Homo sapiens: one gene and its partners. The protein of the gene in region 2 interacts with the protein of the main gene of each other region in a pairwise test. Each region holds a gene or a part of one and is shown on either strand. Other genes may lie near its edges.

Evidence for each region. Proteins that work in one complex are often made in the same cells at the same time.
Region 1: the proteins of FAM161A (region 2) and LMNA interact in binary tests that used the Homo sapiens proteins (3 or more experiments, as listed by UniProt).
Region 3: the proteins of FAM161A (region 2) and ZNF792 interact in binary tests that used the Homo sapiens proteins (3 or more experiments, as listed by UniProt).

Annotation. Positions count from the first base shown.
Region 1 is NC_000001.11:156,124,711-156,131,710, forward strand, and holds part of LMNA (lamin), read left to right. Parts: intron 1-1,459; exon of another isoform or gene 1,460-1,493; coding exon of another isoform or gene 1,494-1,513; intron 1,514-1,844; exon of another isoform or gene 1,845-1,941; intron 1,942-2,025; exon of another isoform or gene 2,026-2,092; coding exon of another isoform or gene 2,093-2,205; exon of another isoform or gene 2,206-2,239; intron 2,240-5,116; exon of another isoform or gene 5,117-5,139; coding exon of another isoform or gene 5,140-5,198; intron 5,199-5,906; coding exon 5,907-6,063; intron 6,064-7,000.
Region 2 is NC_000002.12:61,823,774-61,830,978, reverse strand, and holds the end of FAM161A (protein FAM161A), read left to right. Parts: intron 1-3,720; coding exon 3,721-3,875; intron 3,876-4,379; coding exon 4,380-4,524; 3' UTR 4,525-6,131; downstream 6,132-7,205. UniProt on the Homo sapiens protein: Involved in ciliogenesis.
Region 3 is NC_000019.10:34,961,230-34,968,957, reverse strand, and holds the start of ZNF792 (zinc finger protein 792), read left to right. Parts: upstream 1-4,728; 5' UTR 4,729-5,295; coding exon 5,296-5,328; exon of another isoform or gene 5,329-5,532; intron 5,533-7,728. UniProt on the Homo sapiens protein: May be involved in transcriptional regulation.

The sequences.
Region 1 (7,000 bases), on a different chromosome or scaffold from region 2:
AGCAGTGGTTACTTTGCCGGGTTGGGGGGGAGGTAGGGGCTATCAAACCTCATGATTGGCCGCACACAAAGGTGTGAGTATGTGTATATTTGAGGGTGGGTGGGAGTGGCACTTTCACTAGGCCTCCGTATCACTCTCTGACTGGGGTATCTCCCAGCAAGCGAGACAGAGGCAGACACGCTTCCCAGACTGTCTTACTGGGTCTCTCTGTGTTATTCTCTGCAGTGTCTGTGTGTATCGTGCCATTTTCTATGTTTTGCACCAATCTGCTGTGAGTGTCCTCAGGTGACCTGGGGGCAGGTTTTTAGTGCCTGAGCCTACCCGTCTCCAGGCTTTAGTTTCCCCCTGTAAAAGTATAGGAGTTGGTTCAAGAGAAGGTTCCTCTAGAAGCCTTGAGCCTGTGAACCGTCTAGTCTCCGGGTATTTGTGGGACACACAGAAAAAGCCCCACGACCCAACAGGTAGAACACTGGCTGAAATCAGCAGGGCAGAGCTGAGACAGGCTCAAGTAGGCTGAGGGGTAGGGAGGTTTTGGGTGAATGGGAGGGAGGGACAGAGAGAAGGAGGATATATTGCAGTAGGAGGAGTTGCTGGAACAAAAGGAGGGGTGGTAGGAGTGGCTTGGGGTGGCAGCAGAAGACGCCCTGTCACATGGCGGGAAGTCAGCCTGGGCAGAGGTCTAGGTGTCCAGGAGGGGCTGGGTGTGGTGGCTCACGCCTGTAATCCCAGGACTTTGGGAGGCTGATGCAGGAGGATCACGTGAGGTCAGGAGTTCAAGACCAGCCTGGCCAACATGGCGAAACCCTATCTCTACTAAAAATGCCAAAAATTAGCTGGGTGTGGTGGCAGGCGCCTGTAATCCCAGCTACTCTGGAGGCTGAGGCACAAGAATTGCTTGAACCTGGGAGGTGGAGGTTGCAGGGAGCCGAGATCGCGCCACTCTACTCTAGCCTGGGCAACACAGTGAGACTCTGTCTCAAAAATAATAATAATAGGGGCTGGGCGCGGTGGCTCATGACTGTAATCCCAGCATTTTGGGAGGTGGAGGCGGGTGGATCACCTGAGGTCAGGAGTCCGAGACCAGCCTGGCCAACATGGCAAAACTCCGTCTCTACTAAAAATAGAAAAATTAGCTAGGCATGGTGGTGCAGGCCTGTAATCCAGCTACTCGGGAGGCTGAGAAGCAGGAGAATCACTTGAACCTGGGAGGTGAAGGTTGCAGTGAGATCACCTGGGCGACAGAATGAGACTCCACCTCAAAATAATAATAATAGTAATAATAATAAATGAAAAATTTTAAAATTAAACAATTAAAAATTTTAAATTAAAATTAAACAAATTAGATGCCCAGGAGGATACAGGAGAGCATTTGCCACCAGGCGGACTCCCTGTACCCACCCGGCCACAGGGGGCGATGTTCCTGGGAGACAGGAAATGCCCAGGGGCTGGGAGACCCTCTGCTCTTCTGCTCCCTTCCTGTGTGCTGCCTGGCAATGGGGAACTCTGAGGGCTGGTGAGCAGGGCTGCTGAGGAGTGGGTCTAAGGAGTCCCTGCAGGGCTGGGCCAGCTCCTCCACCTCCCCTTTGTCTTCCCCTCCCACTTGTTATTTTTAGCTACAGTGTCTGTCCCTCTTGCTTCTCCCCCAGATTGGGAGAGGAAACGGAGGCCTCTCCCTCCGGGCCTAGCCTGTTGCCCCCAGCAACCGGGCCCAAACAGGCCTGTGGCCGGCCCTGGCTTCCATATCTGGCATCAGAGTTGGGCTGAGCAGGGTGACTCAGAGGGTGGGTCAGCGCCTGGCCCGGTGCCCACCTAGCCCCTTTGCTGTGCTGGTGCCTTTCTTCCCCAAACAGCCCCAAGGGCCCGGGCCTGCTGCAGCTGGGGAGCCGGACTTCCTTGTCCCACCAGGCACAGCTCTTCAGACCCCTGCCTTGGGTCACATTTGCAAGTGCCAACTCTCATTTCTACCTTATTCTTTTCCTCTCTGTTCCCCTCCCCACCCCCTCTCTTCCCTCTTTCTGAGATCAGATTTGCCAGTGATGGGAAGAGTTAGAAACAGGATGCCCAGCCCTTCTCGCCTCAAGAGGCCACTGGGATGCAGCCACTCCTGTGCTTGGGGAACCTGGAGGATGCAAGGGAAAGGACTGGCACTCTGCTGGCACAGCACCCGGCCTGGGGCAGGACACGGGCGAAGCCAGGGTCTCCCCTGTGAGCACTAGAGGATTTCCCGACCCCTGCCCGGGTATTGTGTGCCTGAGCATGAGTCACCTGAGGGGCCCAGGTTCCCACCCTTCCCAGCTCCTCTGGCCTGCCCCACCCTGTCCTCCCTGCCAACCCAGCACGGGGACGGCACTCAGCGTGTGCTCAGCTTTCCTGATGCCAACCCCCAGTGGAGTGGGCTGCACCACCACCCTGGGACCGAATGCCTGGCTAGGGTCTACTTTGGTCCCTGCTAGGTCTGAGGACCCCTCCTAGGAAGGAAATGGCACTTGGGGGCGGGGGCAGGGAGGAGGGAGGAGAGACACTGGGCTCTACTGTACCCCTAGTCATCTCTTGGGGTGTGCGTGTGGCTCCCTGGCCACAGAGCTCCCAAGGTCTGAGTCATGAGCCCATGGGTGATAGTGGCTTCTTCCCCGCAGATGGGAGCTCCCCGTGCCTAAGAAAACCACAAAGGTTCTTCCTCACTTCCCTCTCTGCTCGTGGTTTTTCTCATCTGCAGGGTGTGTCTTAGTCCTTTAATCTCCTCTCTTTGCAGTGCTAGTCAAAACCTCCACCAGGGAAAGACAAATAACCCCCTTACTGTTTTTTTTTTTTTTTTTTTTTTTTTTTGAGATGGAGTCTCGCTCTGTCACCCATGCTGTAGTGCAGTGGCACAATCTCGGCTCACTGCAACCTCCGCCTCCCAAGTTCAAGTGATCCTCCTACCTCAGCCTCCTCAGTAGCTGGGACTACAGGTGCACACCACCGTACCCAGCTAAATTTTTTTTTTTTTTTTTTGAGATAGAGTCTCACTCTGTCACCCAGGCTGGAGTACAGTGGTACAATCTCAACTCACTACAATCTCCGCCTCCCAGGCTCAAGCAATTCTCGTGTCTCAGCCTCCCAAGTTGCTGGGACTATGGACGTGCACCACCTTGCCCGACTAATTTTTGTATTTTTGATAGAGTCAGAGTTTCACCATGTTGGCAGGCTGGTCTCGAACTCCTGGCCTCAAGTGATCCACCTGCCTTGGCCTCCCAAAGTGCTGGGATTACAGGTGTGAGCCACCACACTCAGCCAGCCCCCTTACTTTCCTTGGAGACCATATACTGTGGCTTGTGCCAAAGTGGTACAGCATGGATTTCCAGCTCCCCTATCTACTTGCTGCGGGACCCTAGATATAGCTTTCTGTGCCTATTTCCTCAATTGCATAGGAATAGCACCTATCGCATAGGGTAGCTGTGAAGATGACGTGAGTTAACATAATATTTAGAGCAGTGCTTGGTACCTAATAAGCTCTATATAAGTGTTTGCTATTATATTATTATTATCACTGCCACCACCGCTTTTGCAAGCAGCAGAAGGTGAAGAGGTTAGACTGAAGAAAAAACTTCTGTGCTCATCAGCCCATAAGCTCGCAGAGCACAGGGATCATGCATCTATGTTTTCCTCAGTCAGTGTCTGCCAGGCACTGGCAAGGAAAGGCTGTTACCAGGGGGAACTCCAGGAATTCCTCCTGGCACCTAAGGAGGCTGGGGAGACAGGACTAGGGAAAAGGTGCCCTTGAGACACCTTCTGAAATCATCCCATTGCCTTCCAGCTTCTTTCAGCTCAGGCTGGCTGGTCAGGGAAACGCTTTGTGCCATAGTGTCTGCCCTCTTCCTCCTCCTGGCTTCTCCATTCTCTCTGGAACTTGTGGCTTAGGAAAGCAGTGAGGTGGAGGAGGAGGAACCCTAGATCAGCAGCTAGAATTGACTGGAATGCTGCTGCTGGCTTTCGGTAATTGACACTGGGCCATTCACCTTCCTCCTTTGCACCTCAGTTTCCTCATCTATAAAAGGGAGAGGGTTGAGCTGAATCAACTCTAAGCTCCTTCTAGTTCTCTAAATTCTGAGAGCCTCCTAGTACAGCCAGCAGCAGCCATTAGCCTTCAGGGTAGAGAGGCCTCTTCTGGGAAGCCCCAGCCAGCCTGGGGGTCAGCCCAAGGAGCTCGGAATCTAAGTTGCCCCAGTTGCTTCACTTTACCAGCGGTTTTTCTTCATTTTCCCTCCTCCCCCTGCAGCTGCTTCAGCTTCGGAAAAGTTCTGAAGTCATGGAAAGTTGGGGCTGTGCTCCCAGCCAGGGGCTAGGCCGGATGGCAGCCAAAACCTGAGCTGGGTTTTGACTTTATTTTTAGCTTTTCTGACTGAGACAGAGGAGGGAATACATTCTCCGGTTCTGGAAGGGGCTCTTTTTTGCAGGAGACAGACACTTACATTAAACAACTTGTTCTGAGGTGTGGCCAGAGGCCTGGACTGAGCAAGTGTGCAGGCTGGGGGAGCTTCCTCTGGCTTCTCATGTCCTTCCCCTGCCCCTCTGAGTGTCACTCTATCCTCCTCCCTGCCTGGTGGGGGGAGGTGGGGGTGACTCCTTTTTTGGACTCTCCTAAGCAGAACACTGCCTGGGTCTCGTCCTCCAGAGCTTCTGCAAATCTAGCCTTCCCTATCCCTCTTCACAGTGAATTGCTGGGCCTCTTGGAGTTTAGGACTTTTGTGGTAGAAGAAAAATGTTGGCAGGGCTGCTTTTCTCCTTTCCAGGATAGATTTTTCCTTCTGCCCACGCTTGGTTTTCCTTTTTTCCATCTGCTGTGGTGGGCTCATGCTTAAGCACTGATGAGTTACAGATGGCAGCTGGAACCAGGTCCTCTGGATCTTTCCCTCCGCTCCCTGGGTCTGCTGCTTTCTCTCACCCTATATTTGTGAAGCAATTGTAACATCTAGAAAGTTCTTGGGTTCTCTGGAGGTTTTTAAGAAAATAGGACCTTTCTATTTCTCCAGTCCACTAGCAAAAATAATCAGGGGCCCAGAAAAGGTGAGGGAGGTGGCAGAGGCAGCGCTGTTCGACTGGTTATAGCTAAAGCTTTACCCACTTTGAGGAGCAGGGAGGCTTAAAGCTGGGGCCCAGATGGACCTGGAGGCCTGGGATCCACATCTGGAACCAGATGCTGAGGCTATGGTAGATGGGTAGGGCTCAGCCTTCTCCCAGGGCACGGATGAGGCAGGAGGGAGGGAGGCAGGGACCCCTCTGTTCAGTGCAGATCAGGGCACCCAGACTGGGTCCTGAGAAAGGAAAGGGTCAATATTGTGCCTGGTCATCCTTGTCTGAGGTCCCTCTGAGCTCTAACCAGACTTTCCTTCCCCACAGTCCCACATGTGTAAAAGGGACTAGGAGAGGTGACCAGTACCTTTGGGGCTCAGATCGAGAAGTGCTAGGGACATGTGGGCCATGAGCTTAGTTGTCAGGCTCCTCAGAGGGAGGGAAGCTTGGCCAAAGGGAAGTGAGTAGAGTCCAGGGAGAAGGCTAAGTAAGGCCCTGTGTGGGAAGGGGCAGGAGACAAAGGTACCCCTGTCTCTTTGGGAAAGAATGGGAGGAGAGAGAGGGAAAAGCATTCATATCACGGGGTAGAGCTCTGCCCTTGGCCCCAGGCACGTTCCTGAGCCCTGAGTCATGGGAAGGGTGGAGAAGCAGGAAGGGGGTTTTCAAGGACCTTGGGGAGGTGGGAGCCCAGCCCCAGAGGCAAGCAGATGCAAACCAACCTAATGCAAGGATGCCCTCTCCTGGTAATTGCAGGCATAGCAGCGCCAGCCCCCATGGCTGACCTCCTGGGAGCCTGGCACTGTCTAGGCACACAGACTCCTTCTCTTAAATCTACTCTCCCCTCTCTTCTTTAGCAATACCAAGAAGGAGGGTGACCTGATAGCTGCTCAGGCTCGGCTGAAGGACCTGGAGGCTCTGCTGAACTCCAAGGAGGCCGCACTGAGCACTGCTCTCAGTGAGAAGCGCACGCTGGAGGGCGAGCTGCATGATCTGCGGGGCCAGGTGGCCAAGGTGAGGCCACCCTGCAGGGCCCACCCATGGCCCCACCTAACACATGTACACTCACTCTTCTACCTAGGCCCTCCCCCATGTGGTGCCTGGTCTGACCTGTCACCTGATTTCAGAGCCATTCACCTGTCCTAGAGTCATTTTACCCACTGAGGTCACATCTTATCCTAATTTGGCTGCCAATGGGATCTACCACAGTGAATTTAAAATAATCCAGGAGGCCGGGCATGGTGGTTCACGCCTGTAATCCCAGCACTTTAGGAGGCCGAGGTGGGCCGATCACGAGGTCAGGAGATCGAGATCATCCTGACTAACATGGTGAAACCCCGTCTCTACTAAAAATACAAAAAATTAGCCTGGCATGGTGGCGGGCGCCTGTAGTCCCAACTACTCGGGAGGCTGAGGCAGGAGAATGGCGTGAGCCTGCGAGGCAGAGCTTGCAGTGAGCTGAGATCATGCCACTGCACTCCAGCCTGGGCAACAGAGTGAGACTCCGTCTCAAAAAAATAATAATAATAATAATAAAAATAATCCAGGCCATGTGTGGTGGCTCATGCCTGTAATCCCAGCATTTTGGGAGGCCAAGGAGGCAGGATTGCTTGAGTCCAGGAGTTTGAGACCAGCCTGGGCAACACAGACCCCATCTCTAGAAAATAAAAATTTAAAGAAATTAGCTGGGCATGGTGGTGTGCACCTATAGTCCCAGCTACTTGGGAGGCTGAGGCAGGAGGATGGCTTGAACCTGAGAGGTCGAGGATACAGTGAGCTGTGATTGCACCACTGCACTTCAGCCTGGGTGACAGAGGGAAACCCTGTCTCTACATAAATAAATACATAAAATAAAATAATCCACAAGCCATTTCTACTTAACTTTGCAATGAACTGTACCTGACCCTAGATCCCTCCCAGTTTGGCCCTCCGGTATACAAGGGCCTCCTAT
Region 2 (7,205 bases):
CACCATGCCTGGCTAATTTTTTTTGTATTTTTAGTCAAGACGAAGTTTCATCATGTTGGTCAGGCTGGTCTCGAACTCCTGACCTTGTGATCTGCCCACCTCAGCCTCTCAAAGTTCCGGGATTACAGATGTGAACCACCACATCCAGCCAGAAATATCTTTATATTAGAAAAATTAGGCCAGTGACTCACCCTGTAATCCCAACACTTTGGGAAACTGAGGGGGGGAGGATCATTTGAGGCCAAGAGTTTGAGACCAGTGTCTACTGTTCTCATTTTTTTTTTTTTTTTTTTTTGAGACAGGGTCTTACTCTGTCACCCAGGCTGGAGTGCAGTGGCGTGATCTCGGCTCACTGCAACCTCTGCCTCCTGGGTTCAAGTGATTCTCCTGCCTCAGTCTCCTGAGTAGCTGGGATTACAGGTGCACACCACCATGCCCGGCTAATTTTTTTTGTATTTTTAGTAGAGACGGGATTTCACCATGTTGGCCGGGCTGGTCCTGAACTCCTGACCTCAAGTGATCCACCTGCCTCGGCCTCCCAAAGTACTGGGATTACAGGAGTGAGCCACCGTGCCTGGCCTACTGTTCTCATCTTCATATCTGTGTGTACCCAGTTCCTCCCCATTCAGCTGGTCATTGAGAGACCTGTCAAATTTTCTTCCTAAATAATTTTTGGATCTGCCCTTCACCATCCTTGGTGGTGAAATGCCAGGTGGAACCTTTATTTCCTATCTGAATCATAATAGTTTGATTGATTTTTCTGCCTTGCTCTTTGCAGAACCATTCATTATACCTTCGCCTTACCATTTTCATTCCCCTACTAAAATGTTAACCCTGGGTAGACAATTAATAAGCCTTTATAACAGGGACAATCATCCATTCTCACCAATTCCATTTATTCTCATTTTCAATGAATGATATCAAGGGGTCTTCTCATTAACTTCTCAAAAAGTATAAACAGAGTTACCATGGCAGTGAATCGCCATTGCTTTTTTTTTTTAGTACATTTTTTGCTGCAGTCTATTTTGCTGGAACTATTGCTGCTAATTAACAGCTGGTTTTTAATAAATTTGCTTGCAGCTATTTGCTTTGCCCATTTATAGGAGTTAATTGTGGTCTCGCTGCTGCTGAGTGATTCCCTAACACAATATGCCTGTGATTCTTTACAGAATAAACTATGTTGTCCTGTTTCTTGGAAATCACAGGATTAATTAACTGAGAAGATGTTAAATTGAATTTTAAACCAAAGTCAGATGAAGGCTTACTGGCACAAATTTTGACTAATGTCTTTTTAATGTCTTATATATTTAATTTGCTGAAGTCAGAATATACTGTTGGTAATGCATTCAGAGCTAGGTTTGGGGTTTCTTTATTCTTCTCTGCAGTCTTTAGGGTATAGTTCTTATTTCTCATTTTGCCCTTCCTTTCAGCTCCCCAAGACTTGTCTTTTGATATTCACAGACTCTGGATGGGTTTTTACTTACTTTTCTAAAAAATATTATTGTTATTCACAGTGAGTGCGTTTTAGCAGCAGTGTTTCTTTTTCAGTTTTCCAGAGTATCAGGAAATGCCCTGGTGATAGTTTTATCTATTGTAATCAGTCCTTGCTATTTCAGGTTCTCCTGTGTAACACTAGACTCCATGGCCCCTCATTATACTAGATTTGGCAAATATCTGACAACTACGTTGCTCAAGTCAGGCTTTAGGTCACCTTCAAACTCTTGACGACCACTACCACTTAGAGAAAGTAGCATGATGTAATATAAAAGACCTAGGAAATGGTCAAGAGACTTGGTTCTACCACTCACTAGCCTTGTGACCTTAGTCAATTTCACCTTTGAGGCGGGGGCCGGGGGAGACTTGGTTTCTTTATTAAATATGGGGGTTAGACTGGGTACTCCTCCACACCCTTCCCAGTATGAATGCCATTGGTACATTGGAACTGGGCCATTCCTAGTATTAGGAATGCTTGCTTTACTTGGAGGTCTTAGCTTTAGTTGGAGGTCCAGAGGGCAATTCTTGGCCCTCTAACAGTTCAGATCCACTCATGGGAGCTAAAATGGGCTAAAGTGGAGGCACTAGTGTGAACCCAGTCACTATGTGGCTCCATAAAGCCTGCCATCTCTGGAGCTGTGATGAGAGGGTCATCACAATTCCAACAGATCTTAAAGCCGGGAAGTGACATTCTACAGATTTGAACCCAGTTCTAAATTCATATTCTTTTTGTTATATCCCTTGCTTCCTCCACAGAGTAAAGATTACAACACTGGTGCTTTTATCATCTTTAATGGATTGGGGATATGGCTTATAAAGAGTAAAAATTACAGTAGATACATAAAATAAAAGAAATTGGCTGGGTGCCATGGCTCATGCCTGTAATCCCAGCACTTTGGGAGGCCAAGGCCGGTGGATCACTTAAACCCAGGAATTCAAGGCCATCCTGGACAACATAGTGACGCCCCGTCCTACAAAAAATACAAAAATTAGCTGGGCATGGTGGCACGCGCCTATGGTCCCAGCTACTCCAGAGGCTGAGGTGGGAGGATCGCTTGAGCCCAGCAGGTTGAGGCTGCAGTGAGTTGTGTTTGCACCACTGCACTCCAGCCTGGGTGACAGAGCAAGACCCTTTTTCAAAAAAAAAAGGAAAAAGAATCCTCTGACAACAATTATTGCATGAAATCTTTTTTTTTTTTTCAGATATCTTTATACAGTCATAAAAGTATATAAAACCTAGGTACAATATAAAAAATAATTATAGATCAATCTAATGTGGCCACCACCCATGTTAACAAATAGACCATTGCCAGCACCCCAAAAACCCTATGTGCCATTGCAGATCACAGCCCTCTACCTCTCCCCAAGAGGTAACCACCATTCTAACTTTCAGGATAAGTACTTCCTTGTTTTTCTTTGCAATTTTACAGTGTGTGTACCTATCCTCAAACAATATAGTTGTTTTGCCCATTTCTGAACTTTATATAGATCATACAATATGTACTTGTCAGTGCTTTGCTTCTTTTGCTCAGTATTATATTTGTGAGATCTATCCATGTTGTGGCATGTAACTGTAGTTCATTCATTTTCCTTGCTTTGTTTCACTCCATTATAGGAATAGACCACAATTTATTTATCCATTCTGCTACTAATAGATATTTGGGTGATTTCCCATTTGGGGTTATTGAAGGACAGTACTATCCTGAACATTCTTGAACATGTCCTCCCTTGGGACTCATATGTGGGAGCTTCTCTGGTTATATTCCTAGGAGTGTAATTGTTGGTCATAGGGTATGCAGATTTTCAAACAACTGTGACTGCTGAACTTAATTATCACCAGTACTTTTAATCCATATTTTTTTTTTTTTTTTTTTTGAGACAGAGTCTTGTTCTGTCACCCAGGCTGGAGTACAGTGGCGCGATCTCGGCTCACTGCAAGCTCCGCCTCCCAGGTTCACGCCATTCTCCTGCCTCAGCCTCCCGAGTAGCTGGGACTACAGGCGGCCACCACCACGCCCGGCTAATTTTTTGTATTTTTAGTAGAGACGGGGTTTCACCGTGTTAGCCAGGATGGTCTTGATCTCCTGACCTCGTGATCCACCCGTCTCGGCCTCCCAAAGCACTGGGATTACAGGCGTGAGCCACCGCGCCTGGCCTAATCTATACATTTTTGATGAAAATTTAAAGTCTTCTGTTCTCGTCTAAAAAGGTTTGTCTTTCCTATAGAAAAATGCAAGAATGGCAGCAGAAAAGCATTATTCTAATACCCTAAAAGCACTAGGAATATCTGATGAGTTTGTTTCAAAGAAAGGCCAAAGTGGAAAAGTACTTGAGTACTTCAACAATCAAGAGACGAAAAGTGTCACTGAAGACAAAGAAAGGTAACATATATAAGATGTCTGAATGGCTTACCTTTGAAAAAATTATTACCTGCAGAAAAGCACAATTTTATACTATGTATATTTTTTGTTCTATATTGTTTTAAAAAGATCTTTTACCCAATAGTAAAAGACATATGAACTGTTGTAAAACACACTGATATTTTAACATGTTTGACACATTAACGTTCACATGAAGTATTTTATTTTTAAAGCAGAATAACAGATTTCTTAAAGACATAAGTAACAAAAATAATAGCATGCTTTCAAATGAAGTTTAAAGAAACAATCACTCAAATTTTGAAATAAATTAGTTTTCAGGAATATTAAATTTCTCAATGGGCACTTTTATAGCGTTTTCTTCTTTTTTTTGAGTTGTCTTGGTAACAAATTGGAATTCATACACTTGAGGAAGACTGGCTACACGGTGGCATACTTGCAGAGGGTTTGTTTACCTTTAAACCAACTCATTTTTCCTTTGAAAGATTGATAAATTTCTTCCCCTAGCTTTAATGAAGAAGAAAAAATAGAAGAAAGAGAGAATGGGGAAGAAAATTATTTTATTGATACCAACAGCCAGGATTCTTACAAGGAAAAAGATGAAGCCAATGAGGAAAGTGAAGAAGAGAAATCTGTTGAAGAATCACACTGAATCATCAAGGTCTCCTCTCTATGCCCTTGCTGTTGTTTGCAGCGTCAGGGTGTCAGCAGCCGCATTTGTGTTTAGAACATCTGTGGGGACGCTTCTGATATGTGCAGGGCTGTTGATCAAAGTCATCTGTAGCCTGAAAAGCCTGAATCCAGCTGATTGGTCATTTGATCAGTTAGAGTAAGGCTTTGCCTATTCAGTTTTAAAAATCATTGTGTATTATCTGTTTGCAACTATGATTTTGTATTTTTAAAAAGTGAGAACCACAGCTGTCACAAACTGATTAGTTATAAAAATATACATTATTTCATTAATTTTACTGGAAAAAATGGCTTAGTATTGAAAGGAGAGAGAAGTATTGGTCTTTGGTGGTTTACTTTTTAAAAATTTTGGAAAGTGTGAATCAATAACTATTTTTAATTATACTATTTGCCCATTCTTTTTCTCTGCAGTGCATTTCACAGAATAAATCCTCTAACTTGTTTTGCTGCTCTGAGCCATTTTTAAAAGTATAGAAAAAACGCCGGGTATGGTGGCTCATGCCTGTAATCCCAGCATTTTGGGAGGCCGAGACGGGTGGATCACGAGGTCAGGAGATCGAGACCATCCTGGCTAACACGATGAAACCCCGTCTCTACTAAAAATACAAAAAATTAGCCAGGCGTGGTGGTGGGCGCCTGTAGTCCCAGCTACTTGGGAGGCAGAGGCAGGAGAATGGCATGAACCCAGGAGGCAGAGCTTGCAGTGAGCCGAGATCGCGCCACTGCACTCCAGCTTGGGCAACAGAGCGAGACTCCGTCTCCAAAAAAAAAAAAAAAGTATAGAAAAAAATGGATACTTGCAAATTTACATTTATTTTTGCACTGAGAGTTTACTGTTAAATTGTCTACACCATCATCCCTTTTTCTTTTTATCCTTAGTTCTAGTCCAAATTATTTTTGATTTGTAAATTATTAGGAAAGTTTTTATACTAGTTTTTTTAACCCTATGTATTATTACAGATGGAAGTAATTATGGCATGTGTGAGTTATAATCTAAATTAGGGGCAAGTATCCCTTTTTTTATATGATGAAATTGTGCATAATAACTTGGCTAGGGCAAGTCTCCAAAGTAATTCAGATTTAACTCTTCACTGCTAGACCCAGTTGTGTTCAACTTTTTACATATTATTGCCAACACACTTTATCTCTCTGTGTACAGTGTTAATCTGATTTTATAAATCTATATTTTTTTCTTTAAGCAAATTTTTGTTTTAAAATTTGAAGCCAATCATAAAGATAATATAGCATAAGACATTTTCTTTTCTAAAAACAATCAGCATCATTTTAAAAGGATGAACTAATACAGGTGTATGTAATAGCAGTGTTTCCAAACTGGCAATTTATGCTTTAAATTTAAAAATAAGGTCATTTTTCTCCATCAGGGGCAAATGTTTACTTGTAATTTTCTTCCTACAGTTCGTGTTAAATTACTTTTTACTATTATTATATTGTAAACTCCTTGGGATTTGGCACCATTTAAAAATTCATCTTTGTATTCCCTTAATATTTGGAACAGTATTGTACATATGGTAGGTACTTAATAAAGGTTTGAATGAGTGTGTAGATGAATATGGTTTTTATATACTTACAGCTACTTCAGAATGAGTACACATGGGATTAAAAACATTTCCCTCCTAGCTCATTGGGAGCCTGTGAAACACAATCTACAAATTGTAATAGTACTTAAAACATTACTTGCTTTCAAGGATTCACTCCACAGCCTGTCCCTTCTCAATTTCATGAGGAGAGTGTGGGCTTTGGTCATGAAACACTTGGCTTCAGGACCAATCTTGTTTTCTTACCTTTAAAAAAAAAATGGGAATATTACCTATCTTGAGTGGCTGTAGGAAGGACTGGATGAAATCATATATGGAAAGGTCTTTGCAAACTGTGATATTCAAATGATGGTGTCAGAAGACAGAATATTCCTGAGGAAACTGTTAACTTAAAATACTTGTACTTAAATGAGATACACTGTGATTTAAATATTATTTGGTTAGAAATAACTTTTGAAGCACTTTGTTAGACATGATCTGGTTAACACAGAACCAAAGTTAAAAAAAGAGGGAGAGAGACACTGACAGTTTCAAATCATTCTGTGCATATCACTGTTCACTTTGGGAGGCCGAGATGGGTGGATTATGAGGTCAGGAGATCGAGACCATCCTGGCTAACACGGTGAAACCCCGTCTCTACTAAAAATACAAAAAAAAAAAAAAAAAATTAGCCAGGCGTGGTGGTGGGTGCCTGTAGTCCCAGCTACTCGGGAGGCTGAGGCAGGAGAATGGCCTGAACCTGGGAGGCAGAGCTTGCAGTGAGCCGAGATGGCACCACTGCACTCTAGCCTGGGTGACAGAGTGAGACTCCATCTCAAAAAAAAAAAAGAAAAAAAAGACATCAAATTGACAGCTGAAAGATTACTTTAGCAGGTCACATTACACAGTGATGGTTAGAAGTCAACTGGTTAAATCAAACATGTTTTCAGGTGTTAGGTAACTGAAAATTTTTTACATTTGTATCATCTGAATTGGCTCCAGAATTCTTTTTACTTATGGGATTTTCCTTTATACAAGAGTAACCTAACATCAAGAAAAAGGTTATGCTCTTTTTTTCTTTCATAATATTACTGGGTACCCTATTACT
Region 3 (7,728 bases), on a different chromosome or scaffold from region 2:
AGGTTGAACCGGAGGACATTATATTAAGTGAAATAAGTCAGGCACAGAGGACAAATACTACATAATCCCACTCATATATGGAACCTAAAAAAGTTGTCTCATAGAAATAGAGTGAAATGTTGGTTACCAGAGGCTGAGGTTGCCAGGTGGTGGGAGTGGGGCAATGTTGGTCAAAGGATATAAAATTTCAGGTAGCTAGGAGGAATAAGTTCAAGAGATCTATTGTACAACCTGGTGACTGTAGTTACGGTGTATTCTTGACAAATGCTTAAAGAGTAGATTTTAAGTCTTCTCAACACAAAAAAGATAACTAAGGCTGGTGCCATGGCTCACACCAGTAATCGCAGCACTTTGGGAGACCAAGGCAAGGAGGAGTGCTTGAGCCCAGGAGTTTGAGACCAGCCTAGACAACATGGTGAAACTCCATCTCTGCAGAAGATACAAAAAACTAGCTGGGTGTTGTGGTGCACGTCTGTAGTCTCAACTTCTCGGGAGGCTGAAGTGGGAGGATGGCTTGAGCTCAAGAGGTCAAGGCTGCTGTGAGCCACGATAGTGCCACCGTACTCCAGCCTGGGTGAGAGAATGAGACCCTGTCTCAAAACAAAACAATGTGAAGTGATGCATATGTTAATGAGCTTGATTTAGTCATTCTGAAGCAGGATATTTCCCTGACCCCTTCTTGGATGGGAACTAGAGTACATGGGCGCTGTCAGGGACGAACTCCACTCGCTTGTTGTTCCACCCCTCATGGGGAGGGGAGCACAGGTGAGTGGGTGCAGGAGACAGGGTGAGGGCTTTTGGGTGCTGGCAAGAGCAAATTCCATACTAGCCCCACGGCAGTGTCTAGGGGAAGGTGCTGTGACCCCTGAAGCCCCTGACGAAGTGTTACAGTGCCCTTTTAGCTTTGCCATCCATGCATAGCTTAAGTGTTAACAGCTCAGTGGAGGGTCAGTGCGACAGCCTTTTGTACCCACACTCATGGCACCCAAGTTTTTGTCTGGCATCCAGGAGGAATGAGGTCACACAAACAAATTGAAGATGGTAAATGCAGGGGATTTTATTGCCGGTGAAAGTGGCTCTCAGCAGGAAGAGGAGCTGAAAAGGGGATGGAGCAGGAAGGTAATCGTCCCCTGAAGTTTGGCCATCCCTGGCCATCCTCTCCAAAGCTACGCTGTCAAGCTGTCCCTTTGAAGTCAGCCTGCTTCTCTCCAACATCCAACCATAGTCTCCAATGTCCAGCTGCTTTTCTTCTCTCTGCCGGCTGAGCCTGGGGTTTTTATGGGCATAGGATGGGGGGCAGGGTGAGCCACGGGTGGTTTTGGAAAAGGCAACATTTGAGTGGGAAAACAGGGATGTAAGTTCTCACTTTGGGCCGTGGTATCAAGATTTTCAGCTTGATGGACCTGGCCTCTTCTGCCCAGAATTTCCCTACCTCCTGTCCCTATCAATTCCACAATGTATCTATATTTCAAAACATCATGTTGCATACAATAATTATATATTATTTTATAAATTTAGAAAAACAAAAAAATGCAGCTATAAGAAAATAATAAAATAAAATCAAGTAGGCAAATGTTACTATGGTGTGCTTTCATGTAAAAATCATAACTATTCCCTCTGAGGCGGTACTTGCTGAGTTAGAGTCATTGTATATTTTGACAAACATCCAAAAGACTGCACAGAGGTGTCTCTTCCCTGCCGCCCCACAGCAGTGTTTGTAAGATTCTTGTGATGATGGTGTTGGTAATGACAATAGCTTTTATGCACCCAGCAGGAATTCTGTCCTGGGCCCTGTTATCTACCATTGTAACCACCCAATGGGTTCTTTTTGCCTGCTACAAAAAGACCACGGCATTGCAGTAAACAAAGTCTTTAACTGACACAGGGCCAGCCATGCCATGGGAGAAACAGAGTTATTACTCAACTTGATCTCCCTGAAAATTCAGTGATCAGAGGTTTTCAGGGATAATTTGGTGGGTGGGGGGCCAGGTAGTGGGGAGTGCTGATTAGTTGGGTTAGAGATGAAATCACAGGGAGTCAAAGTTGACTAACTGCACTGAGTAAATTCCAGGGTGGGGACCACAGGACCAGATGACCCAGTTTATCAATCTGGGTGGCACTAGCTGATCCATCGAGTGCTGGGTCTGAAAAATATCTCGAGCACCAATCTTAGGTTTTACAATAGTGATGTTATCCCCAGTAGCAATTGGGAAGGTTTAAAATCTTGTGACCCCTGGCCCCTGGCTGCATGACTCCTAAACCATACTCTCTAATCTTGTGGCTTTTGTTAATCCTACAAAGGCAGTCTGGTCCCCAGACAAGAAGAGGGTTTGTTTCAGGAAAGGGCTGGGTTTTTTTGTTTGTTTTTGTTTTTGAGATGGAGTCTCGCTCTGTTGCCCGGGCTGGAGGCGATCTCAGCTCACTGCAAGCTCTACCTCCCGGGGTTCATGCCATTCTCCTGCCTCAGCCTCCTGAGTAGCTGGGACTACAGGTGCCCGCCACCACACCTGGCTAATTTTTTGTATTTTTAGTAGAGACAGGGTTTCACCATGTTAGCCAGAATGGTCTCGATCTCCTGAACTCGTGATCCGCCTGCCTCGGCCTGCCAAAGTGCTGGGATTACAGGGGTGAACCACCATGCCCGGCCTAGAGGGAAAGGGCTGTTATCTTTGCTTCAAAGTTAAACTGTAAACTGAGTTTCTCCCAAAGTTAGTTAGGCCTATGCTCAGGAACGAACAAGGACAGCTTGGAGGTTAGAAGCAAGATGGAGTTGGTTAGGTCAGATCTCTCACTGTCATAATTTTCTCAGTTATAATTTTTACAAAGGTGGTTTCACCATATGACATGTAGTATCGGGGGAACCCACCCCCGATAATTCAATGTGGGTTCTTTTCTATTTTCCCTAAGTGTCGGCTGGTCTGAGAAATAAAGGGAAAGAGTACAAAAGAGATAAATTTTAAAGCTGGGTGTCTGGGGGAGACATCACATGTCAGCAGGTTCCGTGATGCCCCCGAGCCATAAAACCAGCAAGTTTTTATTGGCAATTTTCAAAGGGGAGGGAGTGTACGAATAGGGTGTGGGTCACAGAGATCACATGCTTTAAGGGCAACAAAAGATCACAAGGCAGAAGGTCAGGGCGAGATCACAAGGTCAGGGCAAAACTAGAATCACTCATGAGCTTCCATGTCCTGCTGTGCACGCATTGTCATTTATAAACATCTTAACAGGGTTCAAGAGCAGAGAACTGGTCTGACTAGAGTTCGCCAGGCTGGAATTTCCTAATCCTAGCAAGCCTGGGGGCGCTGCAGGAGACTAGGGTGTGTTTCATCCCTATCTACATGTGCATAAGGCAGACACTCCCAGGGCAGCCATTTTAGAGGCACTGCCCTGGGAATGCATTATTTTCCCAGGGCTGTTAATTATTAATATTCCTTACTGGGGAAAGAATTCAGCGATATTTCTCTTACCCGTTTTTGGTAATAGGAGAAATATGGCTCTGTCCTGCCCGTCCCACAGGCAGCCAGACTTTAAGGTTATCTCCCTTGTTCCCTGAAAATCGCTGTTATCCTGTTCTTAAGGTGCCCAGATTTCATATTGTTCAAACACACATGCCCTACAAACAATCTGTGCAGTTAACGCAATCATCACAGGGTCCTGAGATGACATACATCCTCAGCTTACGAAGATGACAGGATTAAGAGATTAAAGTAAAGTCAGGCATAGGAAATCACAAGAGTATTGATTGGGGAAGCGATACATGTCCATGAAATCTTCACAATTTATGTTCAGAGATTGCAGTAAAGACAGGCATAAGAAATTATAAAAGTATTAATTTGGGGAACTAATAAATGTCCATGAAATCTTCACAATTAATGTTCTTCTGTCACGGCTTCAGCAGGTCCCTCCGTTCGGGGTCCCTGACTTCCTGCAACAATGTAGTGTTATTTTTCCCATTTTATTTACTGGATTTCAATGAGAGTCCCTGCTGTAAAGTTGGAGCCAGCATTGGAGTCCCCAGAGGGCTTGTTAAAACAGAGAAGGAGGCCTGGCACCATGGCTCACTCCTGCAATTCCCAACACTTTGGGAGGCCGAGGTGAGAGGATCACTTGAGCTCAGGAGTTTGAGACCAGCCTAGGCATCACAGGGAGATCCAGTCTCTACAAAAAATTTTAAAATTAGCTGTGTATGATGGTGCACGCCTGTATCCCATCTACCTGGTAGGCTGAGGCAGGAGGATAGCTTGAGCCCGAGATGGAGGCTGCAGTGAGCTATGATCAGGCCACTGCACTCCAGCCTGGACAACAGAACGAGACCCATCCCCCCCGCCCCCCCCGCAAAAAGTAGAGAAGGCTGAATCCCATCCCCAGAATTTCTGAGTCCTTAGATTTAAGTTGTTGCCCCAGAACCTGCATTTTCAGCCAGTCCCCAGGTGATGCTGATGTTGCTGGTTTGAGAAGCCCTGAATCAGAGCGACATTTAATATTACAACGCAAAGACCCCGCCCATTGGGTACTATCCCCATTTTCCAGTGTGAATTTAGGTCCCTTAGGGGTGAAGCGGCTGGCCGATGCCCACACGCGCAGGAAGAGCACTGGGGCTCTCCTCCTGGACCTCGGAGGGTGGGCGGGGTTTAGCGCGGGCGGCTGCAGGCTCGGGAGCGGCCCCTTTAAGGGGAAGGCCCGAGGGCTGCAGGCGGCGGCGGTGGAGACCCGACGAGATCCGCTCTCCTTCCCGCCCTGGACCCTCAGCCTGACGAGAGGCTGGGCAGAAACTCGCGATCCCCAGGCCCTGCCTGTGCACCAGCGGCTGGCGCCAGGCCAATGACAGTACGGGAGAGGGCAACTCTCCCGGCCGCCACGGTGGGGGCCGGAACTTCCTGCACTGCAGCCTCGCAGGTCATTTCCCGGCGGGGAGGCTGAGTCCCCAGGAGCTGGGGACCCCGAGTTGGGGGCGGGGCGGCTGGGGCTACGCCCGTGAAGCTGCCCCGCCGGCTTTCCCGGACCGCGAGGGGGACAGTGAGGCCGGGACCCCCTCCGCGCCTTTGCACCAGCCGTGACCCCTTGCAACGGGGGTACCCAGCGGAGCTGCGCGCTCTCGGCGCCCCCGGAGCCTGCGCCCCGGGCCCCTTGCGCATTTTGCACGGGGGAGACTGAGGCTAGGAGTGCGACCCTCAGCCCGGGGTCACACCTCGTCTGGGGCACGGCCAGGTGGGTGGTAGCCTCAGCCTGCGAGACCCCCTACCCCCGCCCCGTGGTTTCCCGCACCGTGGGGCCCTGCTCTGACCACAGACTCCGATGGCAGCGGCGGCGCTGCGGGACCCCGCGCAGGTGAGTGCTTGGACGTTAGGCCCTTCGCTGTCGGCCCCCCACGCTTCTGTTCTCGGTGTTGAGACGCAAAAGATGGCTTTGTTCTAGGACTTTTCGCCTTTCCCATTTCCTTGCTTTTGAGTCAGGGGACCCTGGAAGGGAGTTGCTCCCAGCTAGGATCCTGAATCAGGGCAGGGTTTATATAAAGTGGCTTCCGTTGCTGAAATGTAATGGGATGGAGGGAGAAAGGGCTTTGTAGGCACAGGAACCAGCGTGCGCAAAAGCTTGGGGGTGGGGTGGGGCACGGTGTGGAGACTGAGTTGGGAGTGTTCAAGGAACCCCACCCAGGTCAGTGTTATTAATATTATGTCTGCTGGAACCAGAGAGCAGGTGGGCTGAAGACAGCTCAGAACGGCAGAGCTGGGCCTCTGTTCTGAGGGTGTTGGGAGCCATGGAAGGTTTAGGGCAGAGGAGGAAGATGCTGTGACTCAGGTCTTAACAGGCTCCCTGTGGATGCACAGTGGAGAACTGAATATGGAGTGAGCCGCAAGCAGGGATGCCAAGGAGTAGCCTAATGGAATAGCCCAGGCCAGTGCTGCGGCTGGCCGGACCAGAGTGAGGACTGGAGGTAGAGGAAGTGATTGGGAACTTGATGTCTTTTAAGTCAAGCTGACCAAATTTTCCGATGTGGAGGGTGAGAAAGAGGAGGGAAGAATCCATGGTTTTTGGTTTGATGAATCCAGCTTTATGAACTGAGAAGTTGGTTTTAGGAGGAATTTTCCATGGAAGCAGTAGAAGTTAGGTTTTGGCCAAGTTGAGCCTGTGATGTCCCAGAGACCCCCAAATGGAGTTGAAGAGTGGGCCGCTGAACACACAGTTCGGGTGTTCTGAGGGAGTTGTTAAGGTAATGAGAGACTGGATATTCATTCGAACAATGGCCAGATCATGTATACAAATAGAACTCTGCCCCAGAACCTGCCCAGGAAACCAACCCCCTTATCTACAATAAACAACCCATACAGCAGGAAGCCAGCCTGCTGTCTGTCAGACCCACAGGAAGCCAGATTGCTATCTGGACTGACAATCCAGGAAGTAAAAACAATAACTTCTGTAATGAGCAGTCCCAAATGGCCAGGGTTTGATTAATAACAGACAGCTTTCCTCATTTTTGCTCCTGCTTCTGATTTAAGAACAACCAGAGAAAGGCAGATACGCACCCTAACCAATCACATAGGATGCCCACTTCTAGTTCACCCACCTACGAACAGGAGCCTCCAACCAGGGCACGCCTGAAGCCTTCCTTTTCTTTTGCTATAAAACTCTCCCACTCCCGGCTTGCATTGAGTCTCTCTTGCTATAGTGAGCTTTGAGTAAGTAGCCTTGGCTTTTCTCATTTCATTGGTCTTTGTTTATTTCAACAGTTAGAAACATCCAAAATGTGACATCTGGTGTGTGGACGGGAGTGTAGCTGTGTGTGAGATTTAGGAGGTGAAACTTCAGGTCATGGTGACAATGATGTTAAAAAAAAGAGGAAGGTGGGGCTGGAAAACTGAGAGCAGGGTTCTTGCTTGGGGACTGTGGCTTGTTTGGCATCATAAAGACAGGTGAGGAACAGTAGTGGTCATGGTGGTGATGGAGGGGCTATGTGGGTGTATCAGAGGGTCTGGCAGGTGGCCAGATCATCCCAAAGAGTGTAGACATGAATGAGATGGATGCTGAGGCTTAGCAGTAGAGGAGGTAATATTGCAGTGAGGCCTGGGCTGGTGCTTACACACTCACCTATGTTCTCACCAGGCTTCTGTGGTGACCCTTGATGGGGTTTGTCCTCAGGCTGGGGAATTAGCTTGGGGCAAGAGGAGTCAGTTGGCAGAGTTGCTGGGCTTAGGTGGGTGGGGGTAGGATGGCCAGAGGGGTTGGCTTTTTTTTTCTTTTTTAAATGAGTGTGAGTGATGACAGGGTCAGAATGTGCAACAAAGAAGGCCAAGTGTATGTGACATCCATGTGTGCCGTGGGTGGCTTAGGTTGAAGCCAGGCCAGGGGAGCTAGGGGGCTCCAAGGCAAGGGTGGAGCGCTCCCTCTCCCCCTTACCTGGGTGTTGCCCTTGGCAGTGGAGGCCATCAAAGGTCTGGGGCAGGCTGGGATGGTGCTTATGTTTGCCAGGCACTCTCTGGATGCCATGTGCAGAGTGACTCGTGGGAGCCCATGGAGATGGCTAGGATAGGGGCCAGGATGGGGAGAAGGTAGCAGTGGCAATGGGAGGCCGTGGTGAAGGTCTGGAGCTGTGAGGGTGGTGCAGTCCAAAGAGTGAAACGCACGTGGGAGGGAGTATGAGCTGTTCACCCCAGGGCTCTGGACTGGGGTTTAAAGGAGAAGCCCACATTTGTATCTGAGAAGCATGACATTGGTGACACTAGGGGAAGA